2 linked regions of the Homo sapiens genome follow. Each later gene encodes a partner of the first gene's protein in a complex. Each region holds a gene or a part of one and is shown in the gene's direction. Other genes may lie near its edges. The genes, in order: CACYBP and SIAH1.

What was found.
Region 2: the proteins of CACYBP (region 1) and SIAH1 are in contact, whole or in part, in a crystal structure (PDB 2A25), measured with the Homo sapiens proteins. Residues at the interface, in NP_055227.1 of Homo sapiens: Lys59, Pro60, Ala61, Ala62, Val63, Val64, Ala65, Pro66, Ile67; in NP_003022.3 of Homo sapiens: Leu158, Gln159, Asp162, Ile163, Val164, Phe165, Leu166, Ala167, Thr168, Val176, Asp177, Trp178, Val179, Met180, Asn276.

The regions. Positions count from the first base shown.
Region 1 is NC_000001.11:174,992,298-175,007,306, forward strand, and holds the start of CACYBP (calcyclin-binding protein), read left to right. Parts: upstream 1-7,649; 5' UTR 7,650-7,883; coding exon 7,884-7,898; intron 7,899-12,316; coding exon 12,317-12,536; intron 12,537-14,447; coding exon 14,448-14,544; intron 14,545-14,800; coding exon 14,801-14,900; intron 14,901-15,009. UniProt on the Homo sapiens protein: May be involved in calcium-dependent ubiquitination and subsequent proteasomal degradation of target proteins. Probably serves as a molecular bridge in ubiquitin E3 complexes. Participates in the ubiquitin-mediated degradation of beta-catenin (CTNNB1).
Region 2 is NC_000016.10:48,370,487-48,385,676, reverse strand, and holds the start of SIAH1 (E3 ubiquitin-protein ligase SIAH1), read left to right. Parts: upstream 1-263; 5' UTR 264-473; intron 474-807; exon of another isoform or gene 808-901; intron 902-15,190. UniProt on the Homo sapiens protein: E3 ubiquitin-protein ligase that mediates ubiquitination and subsequent proteasomal degradation of target proteins.

The DNA.
Region 1 (15,009 bases):
GGCTTGGTGGCGGGTGCCTGTAATCCCAGCTACTCGGGAGGTTGAGGCAGGAGAATCACTTGAACCCAGGAGGCAGAGGTTGCAGTGGGCCAAGATTACGGCATTACATTCCATCCAGCCTGGGCGACAAGAGCAAAATTCCGTCTCGAAAAATCACCAGGTACATACCTCTCAAGTTTGATAAGTCCATCTTTTGAGTTTTCTTTTAGCTCTTTCAAAAGATTACGAGGGCAATACATATTTTTTTTTTTTTTATTCTCCAGCCCCATATCATACTTGGGTATGCCTGTTGGTACCATAAGCCTAAACTCTCCTTCACTGCAATGCCTTTGAGTCAGTAGCAATAGTAAAGACTAGAAACAAAGAAAATTCAGAATTTGGTATGTGATATGATTGTTCATACAATATGTTATAATAGCAATATTCCAAACAATATGTCCTTCACTGTCTATTGTTGGAAAACTCATGCATCCCAGCATGAAGTAACTCCTAGTTTTAATTTTAGTTATTTTGAGATATATTTGAGAATTGCATCTCTTCTCTTGAATTTCACTTAGAAGAGATTAACCAGCCAAATATCCAGGAAAGTTTCAAAACATTCTAGTGTTTTTCATCCTTTGCTAGGATGCACTCTGTACAAAACATTCCTCTGAAAATCTAATATTTGCAGTATCTAAGAATTGATCATTTCTATTTTCATTAAATTCTGTGGAAAAAATTAAATGAATGAAATTCAACTTCATAATTCAGTTCATCAGCTTTTGTATCTTGAGAATCTAAACACGTCTTTAAATCTGAAAGAAACCAAGCTGGATTTTGCAGTGCATATGTTTGCTAGCTTCCCACATCCTGAACCATGTCAAAATTTGGTTTTATTTAGTTACATATAATTTAATGCAAAGAAATTCTGTTACTTAATGTTCTGTTTATTTATGAGTGCCTATCAGGAACACTAATAGGAATGCCATTCAACCAGTGTCTTCTGCCCCTCTCCCAGCTGTTAAATTAGTACTTCTTCATTGGCTTTCTGAAATGTCCTGAGTAAAGTAGAAAAGCAACCTTTGTATGGATGTGGGGATATTTAATAGTATGTATCTTGTTTCATTTTTTTCCTATGATGTATTAATATTTATTTTTCTCCAACCCCTGCTCCATTTTCTTAAAATATTTTCCAGTTAATAACTAGTTGCTTTATTTCCTAGCTGAAGTGAGAAAACCAACGGAAAACAATACAGATTTGGGCAGAGGAGATAGAGTTACATCTTTAAAGGAGTGAGCCAGTCACCCAGGAGAATCACATGTGTAACTGATGTAGGGGTTTAAGTCTTCATACTTTCACTAAAATCTGTCTACTAACTCTCCCACCAACCTTTGCATCAAACACTTAGGTACCTGCCTGATTAGGGGGGCCCCTTTAAGGGAAAAAACTTTTAAAAAATTAAATGCCTTGGTTTTGTTTTATCTTCTGGGAAAGAACACTTTTACTTGATTAGCAAGATGATTATATTATATAACTTGCCCTTAAAAACACTCCAAAATACTGACTCCTTTTCTCCAATTACAAATGAGTGTGAAGAAATTCTGTTGTATGATTTGAACACTATTAGGTTTGTATGTGTGTTTAATTGGAAGAATTTTATATAGAGTATCTCTGCTGCTTTTGTTTACCTGGGTACCACACAACCAAATACACATTGAGATTTCAAGAAATGATGATGAAAGCCAGAAGGCCAGACCACAGCTCTGCAGCCTGTTTCCTACAACCAGATATAAAACTCTTTCTCGTCGCCATGCTGATAGTCACACTGAACTAGAACTGTCCCAACACATTCTTCCTCTCTCATAATGGCTTCCATTTAATACAGGCAAAGCCCTTTACCTTAGCAAATTCTTTATCTTTCAAAAGTGACCAAAATGAGGACTTCAACCTTGGCTGCACCTCAATAGGAGATGCTGATCTTGAGTTGTAATGAGAAAAGTGGGCATATAGGAGATTTTAGTGACTGCAGTCAGCTGTCTGGCATTCCTTTCTCAGTTTGCATCTAAAAGACTACATATGTCAAGCTTATCTCCACCTGAATTTGCTGCCTGCTATAAAAACATTTCATTAATATATCCCATTCTTCCTACCTCCATCTCTGGTTTGTCATTAGTGGTATTCTGAAAAGCTTAAGAAAAAAGAATCATTGAGTAGAAAGTGAACATTTTAAGTTATTTTCCTTTTTCATTGGCAATTAGTTAACATGTAAAATCTTTTCCATTAAACTGTATAACTTTTAATAACTATATATTATATATGGGATAAAATATATGGACTGAATTGTGAGAATATAAATGCATCGAAAGACTCTGGTGTCATGAAAGCACAAGAATAAGGCTGGAGATGGTCCCAGATCCAAGATGTCCCAAAAGCCTTTTGTATCAGTTTCTCTATTTTTGGTATTTTGCATAATGCATGGATCCTTAGTTCAAATGAGGGACAAAGTTTCTCAGTCAGCCCCACTTCCTTTCTTTCTAACTCCTACCTTTCCCTTGCAGAGGAGGTAGTAGAGATTCTGGAATTGTCTATTTTTATGAATTCCATTATTTTGTCCATGGCATCTCTAATGAAAACAGGTTCTAGAATAAAGGAGTTGATTAGTCTGAACAGTACTAATTAACTACAAAATAAACGTTAGTGATCAGCCTCTTCCTCTATAAACAATGACCAATTAGACGTTTCCGTAATTCCATGTATTATGTATAGTACACTCTATAAATGTAAATGTAATGCTTGTCTAAAAAGTGCAATTTATTGTACATTGTCCCAACAAATGTTTACTTTTATAATCGTTATGAACTTGAATTGGATTAGTATCTTGTTTTTATGTGTGAATGAAGCCTTGTGAAATAAACAAATGCAACTGAGAAGGTAACAAGGTGACTGTTTTTGTGAGCCAGTGATGTTTTCAATGCTTTGTGTTGCCCCTTTGGCCCCATTAAGCAGTAATAAACATTTGTTCTGAAGTCCATGTATGTCTTTTTTATTTTTTTAGTTGACTTTATTCTGACTCATTTGAACCCAATGTTTATGTAACACTTCTTACACCTGACCCCAGACTCCAGTCAACGTAGAAAACACACAGTATATACCCTGCAAAATGATACCCTGTGCAGCACCACCACAAAGTGCTTCATTTTCCTCTCTACTGAGGTTCCTTGATTCCACGTAACAGAAACCCTTGCAAGCTAGCTTAATAATAGTAATTTTAAGAGGCAATTAATTAAAAGGAAATAGGATATCTGTATCATAGGTCCCAAAGGCCAAACACTTGGGCCTGAACTGGCACTAGGACAAGGGGCTGGAATGCCATCAGGACTCTGAAAGCAACTGTTCCCAAAATTGTGCTTCTGCTTGTCCTTCCAGATGACTTACCTGCTTCATTCTTCTCTCTGAAAACAGGCTTTCTCTGCTTCTAAGTACACAGCTACCAAGTTTACATATCCTCTCTTCAAACTACCAGCAGAAGACTACCATCTCAATTGTTCCAATTACAAATTCTGGAAAAAATATGACTGGCTAATCCTGGGTCAGGTAGCTGCTGTTAGTCCTTTAAGGTACAGCAAGGTAGGAGATACTATAAAATTCAAACTAAACTTCAGAGGCACTTATGAAAGTGGAGATAGTGTGCAGAGAATCCCAATCATATCTCATTTGCATTTGCATTTTGTGCTGGGAATCCATGGAACCCAAGTGAAATCTCAAGAGATTTGTCAGCTCCTCTTGGAATTCAGCATGTATTAAAAAATAATCAAAGACTGTAAGATTACAGCTTTTGGCCCAAATTCAGACCACAGACATCTTTCATTTGGCCATGTGGTATTTTTTGTTTGTTTGTTTTCTGAGATGGTCTTGCTCTGTCACCCAGGCTGGAGTGCAGTGGCGTGATCTCAGCTCACTTCAACCTCCACCTCCCAGGCTCAAGTGCCTCCCACCTCAGCCTCCCAAGTAGCTGGGACTACAGGCATACACCACCATGCCTGGCTGATATTTCTATTTTTTATAGAGACAAGGTTTTGCCACATGGCAAGGCTGGTCTCAAACTCCTGAGCCCAAGCAATCCACTCGCCTCAGCCTCCCAAAGTGCTGGGATTGCAGGCATGAGCCACCATGCCTGGCCCCCATCTGGTGTTTTAAACAATGTGAAATTTTACATAAAAAGTAAAACAATCAAAATTACTCAGAAGTGCTCACTTCAACAGCACATACACTAAAACTGTAATCTACAGAGAAGACTGTTGTGTCCCCTGCACAAGAATAACACACAAATTCATTAAGCATTCCATATTTTGCACAGTCCCCAGAAGGTCATTTATCTGCTGACAAGCCCGAAGGGAACAGTATGAGTCATAGCAAAAAAAAAATTAAAAATATCCATTGAATTTGGCAGTTAGGAAATCATGAGTAAGCTTGACAGGTACATTAACTGGGGGAAGCAGTAAAGGCTGCCTGCAATAGGACAACTGAATGAGAAATAATTTCATTTTGAAAGGAAAATTATTCCAAACTTTGGAAACAAGGCAAAAAGGTGAGTGGCATGTCCTTTCAGTGTCAAACCAAGGACTAGGGGATTGTACTTTGTTCATTTCATCGTTCACTATTGATTTAAAAGTCCTATACTGAATCTATACATTAACTTGTAGATTTTTGTCCAGTAAGAATGCAAATCCCTACTTCCTTTCCAGTGGAACAGATAACACCAAAAGTTATAGTTTATTACCCTGTGAGACATTAACAGGTTTATATCTAACCTTGCCACCTTATACTAACATTACATTGTTAAATTGCCTATAAATACCTGGCTACTCAAATACACTCTCAGTAACTAATAAGTCGAATAAAGTATTTGTCACATGTCCATTTATATTTGCATAATATTGTCTGGAAAAGCCTCCCTTAGTGTTACTTCTGAAAGACCTAAATAGAGTGAAGAAACGATCTGTGTGATGACCTAGAGGAAGAGGATTACAGGTAGAGAGAAAGCTGGGTACAGACTTGGAGGCAAGAGCAAACCCAGTGGGTTCAATGAATAAGTAAAGTGCCAGACTGTTTAAATCAGGGAGCGGGGAAGGAAGAGTGGTGAGAGATGGGTTCTGACATGAAGCTCATAAAGGTGAGATAAGATACGTAAAACACTCAAGTTCACATTAAGGAGTTTGTACTTTATTCTAAGCCTAATAGGAAGCTGTTAGAGGTTTTTAAGCAAAGGGATATAATGATCTGAAAAGATATCTCGAGCTGCTCTGTGGAAAACTAACTCTTAAGGCACAATGGGGAAGCAGAGAAATCAGTTAGGAAGATAAATTTCAGACAAAATAATGATGACTTGGACCTGGGTGCGTAGGGTAAGAAATATCTTTTCCTTCTACCCATTTTAGGCTCACTGGCTGGGGATCCTGTAACAAAAGACAAATTAACAAGAGAAAAGCATAAATATTAATGTTAGTTTTACATAACATGGAAACTTCATAAAGAAATGAAGACCCGAATAAATAGTTAACCTTAGTGTTGTTTAGAGTAGGTTTGAAGAAGAATGGAGAATTGTGGGAAAATGTGATGGGGCTAAAAGACTGTGATCTAAGGGTAATAAACTGGGGGAAACTTAGCAAGGCCTGATGTTCATATTCGTCTCTACGTCCCTGTGTTTTCAGAGATAAAGATGTTACTTTTATTCCAGGTATAGACAGGGCAATTCTCACATGAGGGTATTACGTCCTGCTTCAGAGCAGAAAGGTGCAAGAAAGTTAGAGACATTCCTGCATATGTTCTTTCTCAAATTCCTTCAGTTCAAAGTATTCAATATGTCTAGGTGCCATATTTTTGGGTAGCATGTCCCAAACCCCGTCAGGTGGTAGAAGCAGAGGTTGTGAGAACTCGTTAAATTCGCTACATATTTTGAAGATTAAGCCAGTAAGGCTTGTTATATAAGATGTAAGGCCTGAGATAGAAGACTCAGGTATGAGTCCTTAGCCTGAGCAATTAAGAGAACGAGGTAACTGTTCACTGCATTAGGTCCATGGGATATTTGTTTTTATTTAATTATGTACTTAATAATTCCAGGCTATTGGTTGGACACTTAAAAAAATTTATACGATAAAATACACAGCTCTTAGGAGTTCATCCCATGAACTTTGACAATTCTATGTATCGGTGTAATATTTCCATTACCTGGGCAAATTCCCCTTCGCCGGGCCTTAAGCATAATCTACAGAAAAAACTACGTACATAAATATACGTTTACAACTCAATGAGATTTCTAAAGTGAACCCACCTATCTATAATCAGTGTCCAAATCAAGAAACATTACCTGAACCTCAAAAGCCCCCTGGTGGCTCTTTCATGTCATTGTCCTCCCCACTATGCTCATTAACACCATGGGCTAGTTTTTAAATGGAACCACGCAATATGAACTCTTCCATGTCTGGCTTCTTTCCCTCAACTTCATTTTTTTGTGTGAAATTCACGCATGTTGCGTTTCGGTAATTTATTTTTGTACTGTACTTCCGATTCTTTACTACAGATAATGGTCAGCCTCCATTCCGCTAACAGCTTTTTTTCCTCTCCGAGTTGCTGATTCTAATTGCTGCCTTGGACGATCTATAAAGCTGAGTGCGCGCTATGTGACCTCTCAGGGGTCGCTGCCTTGGACGATCTGTAAAGCTGAGTGCGCGCTATGTGACCTCTCAGGGGTTGTTTCCAACCGTGTTGTTGACATCTTGAGCCTGCCAAGGACTAGAATAATCTGAAAACTAGGCTTCTCTGGGGGTCTCACTGAGTGACAGGGTTAGAACCAGAAGAGAACATCGTCTCCAGAAGACATTTCACCATTTTCTTTGATGGTAAACAGGCTCACTTATACCGAATCCAAACCCAGGCGAGAACTACGGACTCTTGAAATGGTCGGTGAAAGGGGCGAAAGCACCAGGAAATCGTGCTTCAACAGTCCATGACTGAAAGGAGGGCCTGAAACTGTGGCCATAGGCGGGCCCTTTTGTTAGGGCCTTGACCTGGGCTTCCGCTACAGGGCCCGGTCACGAGGCCAACGTAGCTCCACCTCCTACGGCGGCCAGTGATGACGCCACCACGTCGGAACTGTTAGACCGCGGTGACGTCTCCACCGCGCCAAACTCACTGAAAATCAAACCGCTACCATTAGGAGCCCTCCACGCTTAACATATCCGTTCTTTCTCGTTTGAAAGTAACCAGGCTGCTCCTCCCCATTTTTCGCCTTCTTCTCGCGGAGGCTGAGAGACTAACCTTACACAACATGGCGGCCTGGTGTGTCTGGTGTCCTAGAGCGGACGAAAGCAGGTGACTCTCTAGTCAACTTCCGACTTGGACTCCGAAGATCGGTACGTTATTTCCGGGGCTGGGTTAACGCAGCGGTTCCGAGCTGCGACTGCGCAGCGTGGCCCAGCGCGGTCAAATTATAATACATAAAAGTTGTCAGGGCGGAGAGCAAGACATTACTCTTCTCGGATTGCCGGTTCGCTCGCGAGACTTGAGCGTTGCTAGGAGATTCGGCAGGCGGGCGGAGCCAGACTCGGCGGGGCGGGGAGGGGTGGGGCTAGGCTCGGCGAGGCGAGGAAGGGTGGGTGGAGCCAGGCTTGGCGGGCTGTGCGTGCTCGCGGTGGGCGGTGGCGGCGGCTGCCTCGCGAAGGTTCGAGATCCGTCGCGTGCGGGAGGCGGGCCGCGATCTTGCGCAGGGTCGGTGTGGGCGCAGGCTGCAGCGCCGCGACTCGTGCGGGTAGGCGTCTGCGCTCGGTTTGAGGGCTCGGCGCGGGGTTTCCTGTTCCTCCTTCTGCGCGGCTGCAGCTCGGGACTTCGGCCTGACCCAGCCCCCATGGCTTCAGAAGAGGTAAGTGGTCCGGCCCCATATTCCTTATGCCCCCCGGCTGGAGCTGCAGCGCCAGCCTCCCGCCCTACCGCCGTTTCCGTGGGCTGAGCCGCCCTGCGGCCACCCGGTCCCGCGCCAGTCAGTGCGCCGCCTTCCCGGGGGACACCTCACTCGCCCCTTGCTGCGCCGTCGGCTCCCCAGCGCTTCCACTCGACCTCGCACCCCACTCGCCTGCTGGGCTCGAGCGGGGGTGTGCGGCGATTATCCGTGCAGGCGGTGCGGGGAGTGGGTCTGGGAGAGCGGCCCTTTGCGCGTGTTCCTCAGGCCCTTTCTGCCCTGGTTTCCCAGCCAGTGGACAGGAAGCTTCATTCAAGCAAAGCTGGGTGCAAACATGAGTGTCGTTCTTGGTAGAGGGCGGTTGGAAGGTGAGTTCTCAGTGCTAGCACTTGAATTCTCCTAGTCAGGTTTTCTCTACACACGAGGAGCTGTGTTACTCTGGGCAAGTTGTTTAGCTTCTCTGTGTCGCAGTAGCATCCATTTCATAGGGTTGTTAAAAAATATGATTTCTAGGTGTTTAAGTCAGTGATTGGCAAACAGCAATCTGCTGTATGTGATTTTTAAAATAAATAACTTGGAAAGTTAGTTGTAATTAATAGTAAGAAAGCGAATGGCCTGTGTTAAAGCTCTGTAAACTCTGAACGTTGGAGAATTAAATTTTGTGGAGACTTAGTTTGCTCAGTTAGAAAATGGGAATGATAGTACTTGTATTGCTCATTTCCTGGCGTAAGTGGGAGGTGAAGACGGGACAGTTATTCACAGTTAAGTGTTGGGTGTGTATTAACTAGATTTGCTTTATGAAAACAAGTACTGGGGAGTCCCAAGCTTTTGTTTTGTTTTGTTTTTGTTTTTTAAACTCAAAATCTTTTCTTTAAATGAAGAAAAACTATGAGGTTTGTGTGTTCCAGTATTAATCTGGGTATCTTGTGACAAGTCTTTTAAGGTAGGTCTTGGGTACTATGTGCCCCTAGGAGATAACTTCACAGTCTTGCAGGTGGATAGCTCAGTGTTAGTCCTCTTGAAAGTAGAGATCGTTCTCAGTTTAGGCACTTAGAAATATACATTTGAGGGCACTTGATTTTTGTTTTGTTTGAGATAAAATTCAAGTTTTTAACCATTTTAAAGTGTACAATTCAGGTATTTGTTTTTTGTTTAAATATATTCACAGTGTAGTGCAGCCATCACCACTGTCTAGTTTCAGGACATTTTCATCACTCCAGAAAGAAACCATGTAGTGTGTTTTAAACAATTGCTTCCCATTCCTCCCTCAGCCCCTGACAACTACTCATCTTGTACTTTCTGTGAATTTGCCTATTGTAGGCATTTCATATAAATGGAGTCACGCTGTATGTGGCCTTTTGTTTTTTGGCTCCTTCAACTTAGCACTAACATTTTCAAGTTCATCCATGGTGTAGCGTGTATCAGTACACATGCTCTTTATGGCTAAATAATATTCTATTATATGCATGTGGCACATTGTGTTTATCCTTTCATCCGTTTATGGACATTTATTTCCACTTCTTTGTTTGAGACGGAGTCTCGCTCTGTCGCCCAGGCTGGAGTGCAATGGCGCAATCTCGGCTCACTGCAATCTCCGTCTCCCGGGTTCAAAGGATTCTCCTGCCTTAGCCTCCTGAGAAGCTGGGATTACAGGCGCGCGCCACCATGCCCGGCTAATTTTTGTATTTTTAGTAGCGACGGGGTTTCACCACGTTGGCCAGGCTGGTCTCGAACTCCTGATCTCAAGTGATCCGCCCGCCCGCCTCGGCCTCTGAAAGTGCTGGGATTACAGGTGTGAGCCATGGCGCCTGGCCTTATTTCCACTTCGTGACTAGCATAAATAATGCTGCTGCGAGTACTGTATCCAAGTTTTTTGTGTGGATGTGTTTTCAGTTCTCTGGGGTATATACCTAGGAGTGGAATTACTGGTTCATATGGTAACTTTCTGAGAAACTGTTAGACTGTTTCCAGAGTGGTTGCATCATATTCCTGTAAGAAATGTTTGAAGCTTCTGAAAGTTTCTCCACATCATTATCAACATTTGTTATTTTCTGGGGTGTTTTATTTTTCTTTTTCGGTTTATGATACCATCCTACTGGGTGTGAAGTGGCATCTTGGGAATTTGATATGCGTTTACCCAATGATGAAGATGTTGAGCATCTTTAATGTTCTTGGTGTCCATTTCTGTGTCTTTGGAGAAATGTGTGTTGAATTCCTTTGCCCATTTTTGAGGCACATTGGTGTTAATGCCTCCTAGTGAAAAATTAGGAAATAGGAAGATAAAGCTTGAATGCCTTATGGGTAGGGATAAAAGAGAAATAAAATTTTTATATACGTAAAACAAACACATGCCAAGAAGGCAAGGAAAATTACATGATAAATTAGATAGGAAACTAGGACATCTTAAAGTATTTGTGCAGAAAAAGCATCAAAGGAATCACCTTTGTTGGTTTCAAGTCTGCCAATAACAGAACTGAGGAACTGTCTCAGTTTTAAGTTTTTTCAGTGGATACTTCATAATAAAAAGAGTACTTTAGAGTCAAAACTGGCAATAAAGAGGGCTTGGGAATTCAGCCATTGGGGGAATCCCTTGCCTAATTCGAAGTACCTTTCTCATTCTGCTAGATAAAGTATTCCTATTTCAGTCAAAAAGCAAAACCTCTTGCTTAGACTTAATATATTTCATTTTACATTTCAATATTTTTATTATGAATTAGGAGTTGTAGAATCAGCGTTTTTTTGAAACCATTACAATAAAAATATTACTTTGAACTGAAACATTTTGGTTCTATGCTCAAAAGATGAGTTTGCAAGATTTTTTGTCATAGTAATATGAGCTGTTCTTGGAAGGGTCGAGAGTGTGGACAAGAGGGTTGGGCAGAGTTGATTTTTTTTTTTTTTTGGGAGACCGAGTTTTGCTCTTGTTGCCCGGGCTGGAGTGCAATGGCGCGATCTCGGGTCACTGCAACCTTTGCCTCCCGGGTTCAAGCGATTCTTCTGCCTCAGCTTCCCGAGTAGCTGGGATTACAGGCACGTGCCACCACACCCGGCAAATTTTTGAATTTTAAGTAGAGACGGGCTTTCGCCGTGTTGGTCATGTTGGTCTCGAACCCCTAACCTCAAGTGATCCACCCGCTTTGGCCTCCCAAAGTACTGGGATTACAGGTGTGAGCCACTGCACCTGGCCAGAGTTGAACTTTTTATACCATGTCATCTGTTATAGATAGGCAAAACTAGGGCATCTGAGTTAAATGAGATAACAAAAGACTTGTAGTAAAAGAAAAGAATTAGTTCTGTTATTGCATTTTATAAGACTATTAAGAAACAGGCTTTCAAACTCTGTTGTGCGTCTGATATTCTGAGTTATAAAGCACTAAAAGACTTTTTTAAATTGAGCTTTTGATATCAAGCTGTGACACAAGATTTTTTTGGTCAAGTTGGTAGTGTCAAGCCAGAGTGTAAAGTTATTGTAAGAAAAGTGAAACAGCTGTTTGGAAAGATCTTGTGTATTTGCAGTATGTCAGAGGGTAATTGGGGGAAAAAAAACTTAGGCTCAATAATTTTCTAACATTGTCTTTAACTCTTGAATTTCATAAAATGTTGCCTCTATCTCTAGAAAGTAGAAAGTAGTAGACTTTAATAGATGATGGATTGGCAAGAGAAGAAAATGAGAACGTGGTGGCTTTTTCAAAAGATAATTTCCAAGAGTATGTTGCATTTTCGGTCTTTTGTCACCTTCTGTGCAACCAACTCCTACACTTCTGAGTGTAAGACTGACCCAGCTTCAGAGCAAGACTTTTCCTCAAAAGCAGAAATTTTTTTTTTTATCTTTTGTCTTAAAAATTAAGACTTTTTTTATGTGAGGTATTTGAGGTGGGAAGATAATGAAGACCAATCAGTGACAGAAAGTGGAGCATTCATTACCTCAGTTAAGTTTGCTATAAAAGCATTTTACCATGGTCACTGCATGTTCTCTCATCTCTTAAATATTTTAAAAGTGTCTAACATCTAATGACACTCGGATTAGATGTTACAAGGAAATCTATGAATCCTTTGTCAAAAAAAAGTTCTTTGTTTTACTTTTTAGGTCGCAGACGTTTCTTGTAAATATTTTAAAACATAAACTGGAAAATTTAGGTTTGAAGACCTATTTATTGTTTGTTCAAGATTGTTCAAAGTTTTCCTTTTGAAAAAAAGGAAGCTTGAGTTAATTACAGTTAATAAGCCAGATGGAAGAATTGAAGTTGCAACTCAATCCTAGAAAATTTAGATGAACTTCTTAATTCTTAGTGCTTATTTCAGTAAGTTGAAATGAGTGATACGCACAATATCAAGCCATTTCCTTATTTATCATAGCTAACTTATTTTTTGTCTTAACACAGCTACAGAAAGATCTAGAAGAGGTAAAGGTGTTGCTGGAAAAGGCTACTAGGAAAAGAGTACGTGATGCCCTTACAGCTGAAAAATCCAAGATTGAGACAGAAATCAAGAACAAGATGCAACAGAAATCACAGAAGAAAGCAGAACTTCTTGATAATGAAAAACCAGCTGCTGTGGTTGCTCCCATTACAACGGGCTATACGGTGAAAATCAGTAATTATGGTATGACTTGCTTCCCTATAGCCAGTTCTGCCTCCGAGCAACCTATTCCTCATAGTGGTCTAACAAATTCATCCCCAATGAGTTTTGAGTCTGTGTTTTTGGTGGTTTGGAGCAAGACCCATCAGTTTTTATTTAATAAAACTTTTTTAAGATATAAATAGGAAAGGATGCGTTCTAGAAGCTGTTAACAAGAGTAAGGTGATTCACTACAAAATGTAACAACAAGGAAGGAACTTATTCTGAAATTGTTCAGTATAAGACACAGCTTTGGTGGTGGTGGTGGTGGTGGTGGTTTTTAATCATGTTTTATGTTTCACTCTGCCAACCACCACAATTAACTGAGGAGAGGAATCCAGTTAAATTCAGGAAATATTTTTGAGCACCTAATGTGTATCACTATTGTGCTTTGACTTACGGATACACAACAGTGACTAAGACCCAGTCCTTGCTCATGTTGTGGTTGGGACATTGACGTATAACTCGTAGTATAACAATGTAGTAATACTGTTTTCCTTCAATGGTGTATACAGTTTTTTGTTTTGGCGGCAGCGCAACTTGAATATGAATGATGAGCTCTCATTGGAGCAAGGACAGTCTTGTTTTTCTTTGTGCTAATAATGTCTAGCACATAATAGGTAACATAGCTGAAGAAATAATTCTGGAGGTGAGGAACAGGGAGAATTAGAGAGATTTGAGTGTGAAGGGTGAGTCGTACATTCAGCAAGTCAAAAAGGAGGGGAACAGCATGAGCAGAGAATGTGAATAGAGAGTTGGAAGGCATGATCTATTTTGAATATTGTTAATAGTGAAAAGCATGTGTATGTCGTGCTTAAGAGATGTACTATATAGTAATATAGGAAATTGCACCGTGTACTCAGTTGAGTATAGGAAACTGGTCTGAAGGTGTTGAGGATTATGGTATTTTAACCAGGAACATAGATTTGTGTTGAGGGAGAAACTTGTCAATCCGGAGGATGGACTGACTGAATGGGAAGAAACTATTAATAAATGAAGTTCTCTGGACCCCACTAGGGCATTTTTTCATCAACACTGTTTCTTTTTAATTTTCGAGGGTACATAGTAGGTGTATATATTTATGGGGTACATGAGATGTTTGATATAGGCATGCAATGTGAAAAACGTCATGGAGGATGGGGCATGTTTCTATTCTATAGGACTAAGTGAGCAATAGTCAGGGATATGTATGTATATATTCTTGATAAACAGAAGATGCTTTTTTGTGAAGTTTTTTATTTTCTACAAATGTGATGGTATTTTGTGAAGTATTTATATATATGTCTTTTATGTTGACAGAGTTCTTCTAGGTCAGAGACGTGCTGGTAGTTTGATAATACATACTGAAATGGCATTTAACAGATACCAGTAGGTTTGTCAGATTTGGATGAAGAATTGGAGTCTTTTACATTCTACTTTGCCCTGGAAAGGAATTAAGAGAGCTAGGATTCCATTTGTTTGACTACTTACAGAAGTAGAAATGGTTATGGAATTAGTATTGATACTTAGCCATCCAGCTTAGTGGAGAACTACCAATATTTAGATGTCGGACAAAATTGTTTCCATAAAAGCTGTAAATGAACTAATCTTAAAGAATGTATTTAGTGATCATATTTTTATTCTGAGGGATAAAAAGAGCATAGGTTTTGTATTCAGAAACCTGGATTTGAATCTGAATTCTACCACTTGTTAGATGCCTAGCTTTGGGTAGAGTACTTAACTGCTTTGAGGCTCCATTTCTCAACCTAGAAAATTTCTTATATTTCAAATTTTTTCATGTTTATATGACTGGATTTTCATAATTTTACTTTCCTGACTTATGAGCCATGTGCATTTGCTGTTCTAAAGATAGTTTCAGAGGCTTACTTACGTCCCATCTTTTGTTGTCGTTGCCAGGATGGGATCAGTCAGATAAGTTTGTGAAAATCTACATTACCTTAACTGGAGTTCATCAAGTTCCCACTGAGAATGTGCAGGTGCATTTCACAGAGAGGTGAGTTCTCATTATAATGGGAAAGACAGTGAATTAACAGTCAACATTGCCTTATCTTGAGACTCTCTTCTTTGCAGTTTTTAAAATTCTTAAATTTAGAATTAATTATCCTTTACAACTACTTTGAAGAGGTGAGCGTTAACTGGCCAAATGCACACCCTGAAATAAAGCCAGCAGCTTTTTTCCCACAAGAACTATGGAGTAAGGGTACCTTTCATAGAACTAGAAAGATGATGTATTCACCATTGTGTTGCAGGTCATTTGATCTTTTGGTAAAGAATCTAAATGGGAAGAGTTACTCCATGATTGTGAACAATCTCTTGAAACCCATCTCTGTGGAAGGCAGTTCAAAAAAAGTGAGTGTGCTTTTTTTGATTGTAATATTGTGAAACCTTACCAAATTGAACCTGGCTGATTTAGAACTGAGATGAACTGGAATGAATTTGTCCTCTGTAACAGGGACCA
Region 2 (15,190 bases), on another chromosome or scaffold:
CGGGCCAGAGCGCCACGTGCCAGGATCCGTTGAATGCGCGGTGCACGGGCGCAGCAACGGTAGCCGAGTAGCCCCCGCACCTACTGCCGCCTTTGGAGACCCGCACAGCTACGCCCGCGGAGGCCGCCGCCGGCCGCGCCAACGCCTGTGCGCCTGCGCGCCCGCGAAAGCCCCGCCCCCCCAGGCTCCCAGCGCGCGGGGCCGCGCCTCCTCATGGCCGCCGCCGCAGTGTGTGGTATTTAGCGGGGGCGCGCGGCGGGCTCGAGGACGCGCGAAACGGCGGCGGCGGCGGCGGCCAGGGGGGAGCCGGGGCGGCCGTTGCGGGGCGCGCTCTCGAGAGGCGGCGGCGGCCCAGGGTGTCCCGTCGGTCTCGGCGCCGGGAAGAGGCGGTGGCGCTGCCCGCGGTGGCGGGGGTTGGCGACGGAGCGCGTTGGTGCCAGGACCGGGGTCCGAGGCGCGCTCTCCGCCCACAGGTAAGTGGGGCCCGGCCTGAGGGAGGAGCCGGCGGCGAGGGGCTCTCCGACAGGCGGGCGCCCAGGCCCGGTAATGGCGGAGGGCGGGAAGGGCGGCCCGGCCGGGGCGCGGGCAGTAGTCGGCGCGGCGGCGCCTTTGTCTCGGCCGGAGTCGGGCCGCCCGGTCGAGCGCCGCCCCCCGCCCCTCCCCTGCCTTCAGCCTTCGCAAGCCGGCTCGCCCCCGCCCCTGGAGCCCCGGGCCCGGCGGGGTGGCGGCGGGGGTCGGCCCCGCGCGGCCGGGCCGAGGGCGGGGGAAGGGCCTCGGCGGCGGCCCGGCCCCCGCGCGCCCGGGAGGCGGGCCCGGCCGGGGGTGGCGCCCGGCGCGCCCCGCGCCCTCGTGCCGGCCTTTGTTGTGGAGGGTCCCGGGGTGTGCGGCCAACATGGCGGAGGTCAGCTGAGTGCGGGCAGCTGCCGGGGCCCTGCCCTCCCTCCCCCTCCTCCCCGCGGCGCCCGGAGGCCCGGGCCGCACCGCGCCGCTCGGCGGGCCTCGGCCTCCGCTCTCTGCCCCCGACCCCCGGCTGGAGCCGTCCGGGACGGGGCTGCGCTCTTCCTGCCGCTTCGGCCGGAGGCTTCATTGTGCAGTGGGAAGAATGCAGCCTCCTCCCTTGTTTATGTCGTTAGAGAGGAGAGCGCGTGAACGGCGTGCCGGGGAAGCTCTAGCTTATTATAAACCTGGCATTTCCTAGGGTTCATTTGCCGGGTAGTTTGGGGTCCTTTCTTAACTCTCCCAAATTTATAACTTAAAGTGAATAACCTGGGCCACTCCGATGCGTAGGTTCGTTTTCGCTGTCTGCCCGTTCCTGGAAAGATACATAATTTGTTTGCTCGGACATTCAGAAAAGTCCAGCTTGGGTGTTCGGAAAATCAGATTGTGTGTACTTCTTTTGCCAAAGTCATAGAGGCCATAAACAAACAGAGAGACATGGATACTGGATATGGGACGGTGTTCTGACTGTCCCTTCCTAGCAGTTGAGCATTTACCTTTGCTTATAGCGGCTGTCAAGGGTAAATTGTTAACTCTTCAGCAGTTGGATGTTGAGAGCACGGGCTGTGAAGTCCGACTGTCTGCTTTGGGTCAAATCCTGCTCCACTGGTTTGTGACCTTGGGCAGATACTTCTCTGTGCTTCGCTTTCCTTATCTGCAAAATGGGTGTAACGACAGTATCTACCTCAAGCCCTGTTGAGAATTGATGAGATGACAATAGGTGGACTGAAAGCAGTGGCAGCCCCATACTAAGTTCTCAACAAATGCTTACTGTTAAGACTGTAGTTTAATAGCTAAACTTACGAGGTTTTCTTGGCATGATGTGTTGGTATGATGAAAGTGCATAGACCAGAATTTGTGAAATCAGGTCACAGATCTTTAGTGCTGGGTTTTTTCTTTCAATGCATTTTGTTGTTAAAAAGGACAAGGAGATTTGTATGATAAATTAACAGACTTTCTGAGATGGTGGCATTTTGGAAATTGCTGTGGCCGGGGATTTGAATGGCTATATCTTTGTGATTAAAAAAAATCAAATTGATTAAAATGAGGTCTTCTCTTAGCTAGTTTAGATTTATTGATCAGTTCACTTTCAAGGACTTGAGTTAACCAACTTAGAAAAGTGGGACAGTGAATACTTGAGTGTGTATCTATGGTGTTACCATCACTTTTAGAAGTTACTGAAGAGCAGAATGTAGTGTGGTGGCAAATGTAATGGTCTGGTAATTTTATCTGGGAGTTGTTGGCTCAAATTATGGTGGAGAGGATTTTAATTAGTTGTTAGGAGGACTTTAGACTGGTAGATCTTGAGACTCAAAGTAGATTACACAAATTGGTTGTGTAGTGTTTCATTCTGAAAATTTAAATAAAGATACAGATTTCTGTAATCTTGGATGGTTAGTTGCGATTATATCCAGAATTTGTTCCCCAAAGTTTATGCCAAACAGTTTTTTTTTCGTTATTGGCATCTTTCCAACATAATTTACTAACATTTAATATTTTAAACTGAAATACGTATAATAGATGTGAAACTGATAACTTTTCAGGATAAGTATTCCACAAAGTACAAATTCAGAAACAATGTTAATGCATTTTACATCTGTTAAATATTAATCTATTCCCTCTAAGCTTCGGGAAGTTCTTACGAAATTGCTGTAGAGAAATATTCTTTCTTAATATCTGTAATTAAAAAGCATGATTAGGTTAAATTGGAGTTATGAAGGAATTATCTAGCTATGTCAGTAATGACATAAAATAACAAATAGGATTTTCAGTGAGTATGGTGTTTTGAAAACAGATCTTACATAACTAGGGTAACAAAGTTTAGTAATTTACAGAGTTTTAGGTGACTGCTTAAATTGTATTTTTAAGCAGTTGATTTACAAAATTTTTAAAGATTGGAGGTTCTTTGTTTAAAGAGATTTATTAACAGAATTTTGTGGAATTTCCATATTCGCTTTGTGAAATGTTAAAATCTAGATATTTTTTGTACAGCCCTCTCTTTCAACAAAATCTGTATGAAATCCCCAGAACCTTCCATCCCCCCGCCAAAAAAGGAAATTTTCCTTTTTACAATAAGTATCCTTAATAGTATTCTTCAAAATAGCAGGATGTCTAATGCACTTTAAATGATTTAGTTCCCATGGCTATAGTTACTAGAATATCTGCTGCATAAGGGCAAGAATTGTGTTTTTAATATATATCCTCAGTACCTAGTGCTCAGTAGGTATTTGTTTACTCACCTACTACTGTGCGTATTCTAATGACATTCAGATCTTTATTTTTATTTTTATTTTTTTTTGAGATAGTCTTGCTATGTTGCCCAGGCTGGAGTGCAGTGGTGATGTCATAGCTTATTGTGGCCTCCAACTGGGCTCAAAGGTTCCCCCCACCTTAGCCTCATAAGTGGCTGGGACTAGGAGCATGTGCCATCACACTGGGCTAATTTTTTAAAAAGTTATTTTGTAGAGACCAGGTCAGGTCTCGCCATCTTGCCTAGGCTGGTCACAAACTCCTGGGCTCAAGTAATCCGCCCACCTCGGACTCCCAAAGTGCTGAGATTACAGGTGTGAGCTGCTGTGCCTGGCCTCCAATCTTTTTGCCTGCTGAGATGTAGACCCATATATCCCCTTATGCAGATTTTTTTAATTGACTTTATTTTTTAGAGCAGCATTAGGTTCATAGCAACTTGAGTAGAAGAGACAAGAGATTTCGCGTGTAGCCCCTGCCCCTACACGTGTAACCTCCTCCATTATCAACATTCCCCGCCAAAGTGGTACGTTTGTTACAATTGAGGAACCTACATTGACACACCATTATTACCCAAAGATTATAGTGGCGTACATTTTATGGGTTTAGACAAATACATAATGACATACATGAATGCTTTCACCACCCTAGAAATCCTCTGACTTCCACCTATTTGTCCCCACACCCCCAACCACTTATCTTCTTTCTTTTATTGTCACCATAGTTTTGCCTTTTCCAGAATGTCATATGTGTAACTGGGCTTTTAAAATATGTAGCCTTTTCACATTGGCTTCTTTCACTTAGTAATATGCATTTAGGTTTCCTCCACGTCTTTATGGCTTGGTAATTCATTTCTTTAGGGCTGCATAATAATCTGTTGTCTAGATGTACCACAGTTGGTTTATCCATTCACCTACTGAAGGATGTCTTGGTTGGCTTCGAAGTCTTGGCAATTCTGAATAAAGCTGCTGTAAACGTCCATTTGCAGGTTTTTGTGTGGCCATGAGTTTGTAACTCCTTTGGGTAAATGCCAAGGAATGTGATTGCTGGATCAGATAGTAAGAGTTTAGTTGTTTTGCTGCTGTTTTTTTGAGACAGTCTCACTCTGTGCCCTGGGGTGGAGTACAGTGGCACAATCTCAGCTCACTGCAACTTCCACCTCCTGGGTTCAAGTGATTCTCGTGCCTCAGTCTCCTGAGTAGCTGGGATTACAGGCGCCTGCCATGACGCCCAGCTAATTTTTGGATTTTTAGTAGAGGCAGGGTTTCAACATGTCGGCCAGGCTGGTCTTGATCTCCTGACCTCAGGTGATCTGCCTGTCTTAGCCTCCCAAAGTGAAGAGTATCTTTAGTTTTGTAAGAAATTGCCAAACTGTCTTCCAGATTGGCTGTACCATTTTGCATTCCTACAAGCAATGAATGAGCGTTCCTGTTGCTCTGTATCCTCGGCCGGATTTGGAGCTACCACTGTTCTGGATTTTAGCCGTTCTTTTTTTTTTTTTTTTTGAGACGGAGTCTCACTCTGTCGCCCAGGCTGGAGTGCAATGGCGTGATCTCGGCTCATTGCAACCTCCACATCCCAGGTTCAAGTGATTTCTCCTGCCTCAGCCTCCTGAGTAGCTGGGATTAGAGGCATACACCACCACGCCCGGCTAATTTTTCTTTTTACTTTTAGTAGAGACGGGGTTTTGCCATGCTGGCCAGGTCAGTCTCGAACTCCTGACCTCAAGTGATTCGCCCACCTCGGCCTCCCAAAGTGGTGGGATTACAGGCGTGGGCCACTGCGCCTGGCCTGTAGTGGTATCTTACTGTTTTAAATTTGCATTTCCGTGATGACATGTGATGTGGAGCATCATTTCATATGCTAGTTGTTATCTGTATATCTCTTTGGTGGGGAGTTAGTTAAGGTCTTTTTGACTCTTTTTTTTAGGTTGGGTTGTTTTGTTATTGGTGAGTTTTTGTTTTTTTTTTGTTTGTTTTTTTGGAGACAGAGTCTTACTCTTGTCCAGACTGGAGTGCGGTGGCGCCAACTCAGCTAACTGCAACCTCCGCCTCCCAGGCTCAAGCAGTTGTTCTCGTGCTCAGCCTGCTGAGTAGCTCCTGAGTAGCTGAGATTAGAGGAACGAGCCCACCGTGCTCGGCTAATTTTTGTATATTTAGTAGAGACGGGGTTTCGCCATGTTGGCCAGCCTGGTGAACTCCTGGCCTCAAGTGATCTGCCTGCCTCAGCCTCCCAAAGTGCTGGGATTACAGGCGTGAGCCACCGTGTTCGGCCAGGTTTGCATATTTTGGATAACAGTTCTTTTTTAGATACGTCTTTTGCAGATATTTTTTCTGTTCTCTATCTCAAAGCTGGCATTGCCTCTCTTCTTCACATTTACATTCATTTCCTTCTACCTTTAAGAGATCTCCTTTTGGTCTCCAGCCTTACAGTCAGTTTTCCTACTGCAGTTTAAGTGAGCTTTCTAATAGGTGAACCTGACTTAAAAGGCTTTCAGTGTAAAGTTCTAAGTTCTTGATATGGTTCGTAAGTACATAGCCTCTCCTGAGCTGGCCTCTCTTGTTACTCCCCTGCCATTTTGGACTTTACTTGCAAGCCCCTCTCATCCTATTAAGCTCTCTTATCTCAGCCTGGACATCACTAGCTGAGAAGCTCTTTGTGAACTCTGCACATTGAATTGGATGTCATCTCTGTGTTCCCATAGCACTCTGCTCGGTCCCACTGTAACATATCCTCCTGAATTATAATTTTTCTTTAGTTGTATGCCTCCCCAGATAGACTGTAATCTCTATGACGACTTGGTCATCCTTGTGTCTCAAGAGTTTAGGACTCTTTCTGGAACATAGGTGGTGCTCAGTAAAAAGTTATTGAGCGACTGACTCCACACTGTCCTTATTAAACTCTTCTAGCCTTTTCGTTGTGTTTTGTTTTTACCAAGGCATAGTGTTTCTTACAAACTTCTCTAGCCTTATTGCCTGTGTTTCCCCTTTGCCCTACCTAGGCCAACTGGGTTCTTTTGTTCCTTGAACACTGCTTTAGCATCTCTGTGCCTTTGGTCATGATTGTATTTAGCCTCTGAAATGTCTATTTGTGCTACTTTGGGTAGATTACTGAACCTCTCTAAGCCTTAGTTCTATTAGTACATGAACAGTTATTAAGTATATTGCTGTTCCCTGCCTTCCCCTCGCCCCCCCAGCCCCCATGTCCTAATGCTAGAGTGTCAGTATAATTAAGTGGCTAAGAGGACAAGCCCTTAAGAGTCAGATCTGGATGTGTCTCTTGGCTCTATCACTTATTAGTTGTGTTTGTGACTTTAAGTTCCATGAGAGCAGAGACACTGCCTACTTTGCATCTAAAAGCACATTGCCTAACACAGCAAGTGTTGTAAAAAGATTAGTTGTTGAGTAAGTTACTTCTCTAAATATTACCACTTACCTTCTAGTGAGGAAAGAAAGAAACAGAATTACAAATTGTGAAGTGTACTGTAAAGGAGTCAAAGTGCTGAAGAGACCAGTGGGGTGGAAGGGAGACCTGGTGTCCAAGGATAAGGAGCTCGCCCTTTGAAGGGGGAAGGAGTACATCTTAGATGGAAGATGCAGCCAGATAAAGGCCCCATGAAGTAGGGATGAATTTGGACTGCTCTAGGACCTGAGGAGTGTTGCTGGAGCAAATGGGTAGTAGAGAGAGACAGGTTGAAGAACTGTGCAGAGGGAAAGAGAGGAGAGATGCTGTGAAGTGTTAGCTGATATTAGCATCTGGCTGTTGTTCAAGGAGATTCTAGGAGAATACCTAGAGCAATATTAGGACTTTTATTTTCTAAATGTAAACTATTTTGTTGACATTTAGCCTAAATACATATGGAAAAAGTGCTCAAATCATGTGTACAGCTTGACATTTTCACAAAAGGAACGCTATTGTAACCACCTCCCAGATCGAAGAAACAAGGAGCCGCCCCCTTCACAGGAAACCACCTCTTGACTTTTTACACCATAGATTTATTTTGCCTAATTTTGTGCCTTATATGAATGGAACAGTAGAGTTTGTACTCTTTCATTCTTTTGTTGTTGTTGTTGTTGTTTTGTGACAAAGTTTCACTCTTGTTGCCCAGGCTGGAGTGCAATGGCACAGTCTTGGCTCACGGCAACCTCCACCTCCCGGGTTCAAGCGATTCTCCTGCCTCAGCCTCTCGAGTAGCTGGGATTACAGGCATGCACCACCACACTTGGCTAATTTTTTGTGTTTTTAGTAGAGATGGGGTTTCTCCATGTTGGTCAGGCTGGTCTTGAACTCCCAACCTCAGGTGATCTGCCTGCCTTGGCCTCCCAAAGTGCTAGGATTACAGGCGTGAGCCACTGCGCCCGGCCTGTACTCTTTCATTTCTGTTTGGCTTCTTTCACTCAACATTATGTTTTTTTGTGTGATTAAGGAGTATTATTTGCTTATCCATGACAAAGTTACCAGCTGAATAGCCATGTGTCCCAGTACTTCTTATTTTATTTTATTATAATTTTTATTTTTATTAGAGACGAGATCTCACTATGTTGTCCAGGCTGGTCTCAAACTCAAAGGCTTTAGCAATCCTGCCGCCTCGGCCTCCCAGATTGTTGGGATTACAGGTGTGAGCTGCCACACCTGGCCCTTCTTTTGTTTTTTAAGTCTTATTCTTTTCCCTGACCATCTCAAATACTTTCTGACCAGTATTTCTAGAACGATTTTTTTTTTCCTTAAATCTTCAGGAGGCTCAGCGTGGCGGCTCACGCCTGTAATCCCAGCACTTTGGGGAGGCCGAGGCTGGTGGATCACTTGAGGTCAGGAGTTCAAGACTAGCCTGGCCAACATGGTGAAGCCCTGTCCTTGTCTCTACTAAAAATAAAAAAATTAGCTGGGCATGGTGTCATCCCCCTGTAATTCCAGCTACTCGGAGGCTGAGGCAGGAGAATCACTTAACCCGGGAGGTGTAGGTTGCAGTGAGCCGAGATGGTGCCACTGCACCCAGCCTGGGCAACAGAACAAGACTCTGTCTCAAAAAAAAAAAAAAAAAAAGTCTTCCAGAACTTTAGGTTTAATGTTACAGACAAGATATGACCAGAATAAAGCTGGCAGAAACCTTCCATTAGGTTTGTGGTTGCCCAGTCATGTTTGAACTGACTTGTTTTTTTTGTTTTGTTTTGTTTTTGGTTTTTTTTGCTTATTCGTTTTTGTTTTGAACAGGGAGTCCGGGCACATGGAATAAACTAGAAAGAGAAAAACCTTTGGAGAACTAATTATATTTATAAAACAGATCTTGCCAGTGAGAAATATTTTCTTAAGGAGTTTAATGCCAGTCTTGAATTTTGTAGAAAATATTTCAGCGTACTTGGTATAGTTATTTATTAGTGTCACATCGACCACCTTGGTCTAGTGATGGTTGATACAGTAAATATAAGTGTATACTAGCTTCTCTGCAAAGACTCTACCTTGGAAAGATTACTTCAATAATTTATTTGACAAAATGAAGTAATCCTCTCCCTGTTAAAAACTTCTTCCTGGTTTCCTTCCTTTGTATTTCACATTAAATTTTGCCCTTTTGAATTTGGCCAGAACTCAGGCTTGTTGGGTAAGGTAGCTTTACTTCTAAAAACTTGTCAAGGGCCCTGATTTAGCTTTATTAGAACAACTTCGGATATCTTGTCTATACAGACGTTAGTTAATTTTTGCAGACTGTATTCTTTTGAGTTTGTGAGGGGAGGGGGGCTATCATAAATTTTGTTAACTTTTAAAATGTTTAAGATATTTTCAGCCGGGTGTAGTGCCGGGCGCCAGTAATCCCAGCTACTTGGGAGGCTGAGACGGGAGAATTGCTTGAACCTGGGAGGTGGAGGTTGCAGTGAGCTGAGATTGCACCACTGCACTCCAGCCTGGGCGACAGAGCGAGACTCTGTCTCAAGAAAAAATAAATAAGATTTTTTTTTATAGTATAAAATAAAATGTCTACAAAATATGTAGTTTTTTGTGAATAGGCTGGTTTTAAGTTTCCTGTAAGTATCCATCTATTTGAGGAATTTTGAGAAAAAAAGTGAAAGCAAGGAGAAAATCAGCTCTTGAATTCTGTATTTGATGTTCTGTAGAAGTTACTAGCAATTCATTAACAGAAAATGTGGAGATATGATAAAATGTGCATTAAAATTTTTAAGTGTAATATTTTTTGTTGCCAATAATTTTATGAAACATTGGAGAGATACCGAAATCCCTCCTCACCCCCAAACTATTATTTATAATCTGATTACTAAAAAGTAACCATCATAGACATTTTGGTGTAGTCTGGGTGTGCTTCACATTTTTTTGTTTTACTCAGCCAAAGATATTTTAAAGTTAGTTTCTTTGATCTGACCTAAATTCTTGTAGTTCTCATGATTATCATCTCTAAGAACTATATATGTTTGAACTGTGTACTGTAATTTCAAACGATGGAATTTGTGCCGACAGTCTCTGTTTCTTGGAGTTCTTGATGCTTTGTGTGCCTGTAGTTCAGTGGTCCCATCTCTCTCTGGTTTCTAATTCCAGGCTTGCTCTCCCTTTGTCTGATCCTGCATCTTAAACCATTAAACTACATTCTGCAGTTTGGATGTCCTTCCAGTTTCTTTTCTGTTTCATTACATGCTACATACATGCATACATACATGAAAATATATACATCAATGTGCATATCTATTATACTTACCTATTTTTTTCTTTTAACCTAAATGAAATTGTAATCTGTATATTCTGTAGCTTTTTTTCTCCCCCCAATTTGTTTTTTGTTTTTTGTTTTTTTTTGAGACGGAGTCTCGCTCTGTCGCCCGGGCTGGAGTGCAGTTGGCCTGATCTCATCTCACTATACCCTCTAACTCCTGCGTTCAAGCAATTCTCTTGCCTCAGCCTCCCTAGTAGCTGGGATTACAGGTGCCCACCACCATGCCTGGATAATTTTTGTATTTTTAGTAGAAACAGTTTCACCATGTTGGCCAGGCTGGTCTCCAACTCCTGACCTCAAGTGATCCACCTGTCTCAGCCTCCCAAAGTTGCTGGGATTACAGGCGTGAGCTACTGCTCCTCGCCTCTCTCCCCCCACCCCGTTTAAACAGTTGATTCTTACATGTTAGTAAGTCTGATGTATGAGTCCATTTTATTTAAAGAAGGCAGCACACAGTATTCTGTTGTGTGGACCATAATTTAACCACTTTCTTAGGATAGGGCTGTTTTCAGTTTACTATTACAAACAGGCATCCATACACACTCACTCCTTTGCCAACATTAGAGGATAGACTTTTTAGAGTCTCACTGTGTCGCCCTAGCTGGAGTTCAGTGGCACCATCTTGGCTCACTGCAACCTCCGTGCCCGGGTTCAAGTAATTATCTTGCCGTAGCCACCACTTTGACCTCTTTTAGCTGATTATTTTTGCATTTATCTTTGTCTTTAAATAACACGCCTCTATTGTTTCTAGATTTCAGTTTTTGGCTTTCTTTGTTGATTTCCGTTTGTGACTTTAACTCTTCTTGCCCCCATCACATGTGCATACCCTTCTCATTCCTACATTCCTAATTTAGTTAGTAACACTGCAGTTTTTTATTTGCTTATCCTGACTGTCAAAGTTATTCAGTTTGAGCCATGTAATAAACTGATTACTTCTTTCTCTGCATTTTTTAGTTTTTATTTTTGTAGGTAATATCTTTTTTCTTCCTTCCTATTTTGGCTTTGTTTTCTTCTGTGCTTACTGCTAATGCTACCTCACATTCCTTGCCGCTTGTCTAAATGTTCCATCAGGTTGTTTGGATGCCTTCAGTTGCCCTCTTCTAGCATAAAGTTGTCATTATCTTCAGTAGTTTCTTTACCTTTCTCCTAGATGCAGTCTTCTGTTTATTGTAACCCCGTTCTTTTTCTTGGTTATTTCCCTTGTATTTGAAGAGCTTATCTTCCAGGAGCTTCCTAAGAACATATCCAGGGGAGGTAGTATTTTGAAACTGCATCATCATTCTGCCCTCAACACTTTCGAGATAGTTGGGTATAGAATTCTAGGGCATAATTTTCTTTGAGAATTTTAAAAGCATTGTTCTGTTGCTTTCTGACTTTGGATGTTGCTGCCTGAAAGTCCAAAGTTCTTGTTTTCTGATGTATTTATTCATCCAAAAAATATTTATTGGAGTCTGTACTATGTGCCAGGCACTGTATTAAGTTTTTGGGATACATAATTGAGCCAGACAAAAATCCTACCTTCCAATTGAGGACAGTGGGCGCCTATAACAACAAATAAAAAATAATAAGTGAATTATGTAGTCTGTTAGAAGATAATACATTCTTTGCTGGGAAAAGAGTAGGAGGCGTGAGATGGGCCAAAGATTTAGGAGTACACAGAGGGGCAGTGGGCAGGGTGCCGCTTACTATTTTAAATAGAGGGTCTGAGTGAGTGTCATTGAATGTAACAAGTAAAGATTTGAAAGTTAGGGAGTTAGCCACATGGATATTCAGGAGAAAAGTATTTTAAGACACAGGCCCAAAGGAGCAACCTAGCATTGCCATTGAACAAGGAAGTCAGTGCAGTGAGTAAAGGGGAACAAAGTAGGAGATGAAGTCAGAGAGTAATGGGAACACAGCACCATACTGTATCCTTATACATAATGGCCCCTTGTGGGCTATTTTTAGGATTTCAGCTTTTACTCTAACATGGGTAGCCAGCGGAGGGTGTAGAGCAGAGATTTATGTCATCTGATATAAAACGGAGCTGGATTAATTAATCTAATTGCTGTGCTCAGAACATATTAGGTGGTGAGGGTGGGAGACATAGCTGGGAACAATGAGACTGGTTGGGAGGATATTGTGGTAATCCAGATGAGAGATACTGGTGGCTTGGACTAGATGGTAGTGGTAGAGGTAGGGAGGAATGGTTGGATTCTGAATACATTTTGAAGGGAGGTATAATAAGATTTCCTGACTGTTTTAGATGTATGTTGTGAAAGAGAAGAATCAAGGCTGACTCGAAGGCGCTTGACCTGAGTCACTGGAAGGATGGAGTCTCTATTAATTGAAAAAAGGAAGACTCTGAGTGGAGAGACTTTGGGAGGTGATAAGGAGTTTCTCTTTGGCCATCCCCCTGAAGGGGCAATTGGATTTACAAATCTGGGGTTTCAGACAAATCTGGAGCATTGTGTTTATTTTTAAAATCTGGGCTGGAGATGAAAATTTTGAAATCCTTAGCATGTTGATGGAATTTAAAACTAGGAGACTGAATGAGATCACCAAAGTACCAGTGTACATAAGAAAAGAACATCTTAGGGTGTAAGGGTGGGAGACAAGGATGGAAACAGAGAGACTGGTTTGGAAGAGATTACAGTAATTTATAGGCAGCTACAATTTCAATAATTTGGGGGAGAAGAGCAGGAATAAAAGGAAGCTGAGGAGTGACTGAGATAGGAAAACCAAGAGTATGTGAAGTCGGTGAACAGAGTTTATTAGGCAGGAGCCCAGTGATCCGTCAACTCTGTTAGGTGTTGCTGACAGTTCAAAACTTGCAATTTAAATACAAACAAAACCACAGAACCATTGAAATTCAAATTACTGATTCACTAAAATATTGGATACTGTCAGGCTGAATTTTAGTCTTAAAACTGCACTTATGGGATTGACTTACGGTTATGAAATTGACTGTTACCGGGCAGGTTCTTTTTGAGTTAAGCATACCTTAATTGCCCTGTATCATGTGGTCGTATGAAATCTTAATTTTTTCACTGACATACAAGTGCTTTAGTGGAAACCATGATGGCATTTAGGCTTTGCTTCACACAAATGAATTATTTATGTTATTAGATCGACCTCAGCTTTTCTCTAGCTTGCGTAGAGAAAATAGGACCAACTTAGAGCCAGTGTGGCCATAAATATGAATAGAGGCATTTAATTACATGGCTAACAGGTGTATTCAGATGATTCAGAATGTGTTGATACTGTTTTTTAGACTATTAAAAACATGAAAGTAAAATATTAAATTTTTAGAGAAATGTGAACTCCTTGTGAACAGAATCTTAGTTTGAGGGAAATTAATATAGGTTAATTCTTCTGTTACATCCTTAGTTGAAATAACTAAAATGGTTTGCCTGGAGTTTCAGGTGGTACTGCTTATGTCAACATAGATTGTAACTATTTCAGCTGAATATAATTGAATTTTAATAAGGCTCCATGATTTTTTAAAAGATGGCATTTCTTTCCTATAAATTCCATTACTTTTTTCTATTTTACTAGTAAAGAGCCATCAATCAAAATATATCAGACTCACTAATGTGACTTTTTACCCTGTTTCTTTAATTTCTTTAGTCTTCCTAGCAATATGCTCTTTTATGCTTAGTTTAGTATCCCAAATATAGATTACTGCTAATTTTGATCTGCTGTAAAATTTTTTTCTCTGTGTGTGTGTGTGTGTATACATACTTACCTACCAGATTTGTCAGATGTAATGTGAAGTTGAATGAATTATATGGTAGAGTGTAGAACTAGGTACCATGAATTTTATAAGTAAGGTTTTAAAAAGCACAGCTTAAATGCCAAGATGGAGTAAAAGAGCAAGCTTGCACTGGAATGTGAGAATTTTGTATCCTGAGAGAATATAAAACATAAGGTAGTAAATGGCTGTATTCAGATAACTAGGTAAATAGTATTTGAATGTTTTTATATAGACACTGAGACTTGGTTATATTGCAGATTAGTTTGTAATCAAGACTGATGTTTCAATAATTTTAATTTCAAGTGTGTTGCTAAAAAGTTTTAAGGTTATTTAAAAATTTTAGTAATGTGTGGTATGAAATAAAAAGTTGAAAAAGCCTGTTTGGCCCTCTGCCTGGTTCTGTTGCTCTTCTCTGCTCTTTCCTCTCCATGATACATACTTTGCTTTGATTTCATATCTAATGACTTAATGGCAGACTTAGAATATGTGATTCTATCACTTTGATGGAAAGTAAAGGTTTAATTTAAAGACTTTAGGAAGTTTATTTTCTTGACACATTTTTGTAAATATGGAAAAGATGTTTTGAATGCCAAATTAAATATTCCATACCAGGGTAAGTAAGGAGAACATACATGATTTTTTTAGGGTTATTCAAAAGAAGATGAGATTAGAGACAACAAAACATCTGGCTGTGCTCGTATTTATTTCAAGGCACTGTATTGCCCAGGCTGGAGTGCAGTAGCTATTCACAGACACAATCATGGTGCAGTACAGCCTCTTGGGCTCACCTGATCCTCCCTCTTCAGCCTCTTGAGTAGCTGAGACTACAGGCATGTGCCAGCTTGCTCTTACTTTTTTTTTTTTTTTTTTTGAGATGGAATTTCACTCTTGTTGCCCAGACTGGAGTGCAATGGCACGATCTTGGCTCACTGCAACCTCCCCCTCCCGGGTTCAAGCGATTCTTATGCCTCAGCTTCCGTAGTAGCTGGGATTACAGGCACCTGCCACCACACCCAGCTAATTTTTGTATTTTTAGTAGAGACAACTTTTTACCACGTTGGCCAGGCTGATCTCAAACTCCTGACCTCAAGCGATCCCGCCAGCCTTGGCTTCCCAAAGTTGTTGGGATTACAGGTGTGAGTCACCATGCCTGTCCTTGAAATTTGTTTTTTTTTTTTTTGAGATGGAGTCTTGCTCTGTCGCCCAGGCTGGAGGGCAGTGTCGTGATCTGGGCTCACTTCGAGCTCCGCCTCCCGGATTCACGCCATTCTCCTGCCTCAGTCTCCCGAATAGCTGGGACTACAGGCGCCCGCCACCGCGCCTGGCTAATTTTTTGTATTTTTAGTAGAGACGGGGTTTCACTGTAGTCTCGATAACCTGACCTCATGATCCGCCCACCTCAGCCTCCCAAAGTGCTGGGATTACAGGCACGAGCCACCGCGCCCAGCCGAAATCTATTTTCTTAAGTAAGGTGGGGATAAATGTCTAACTTTGGTCAT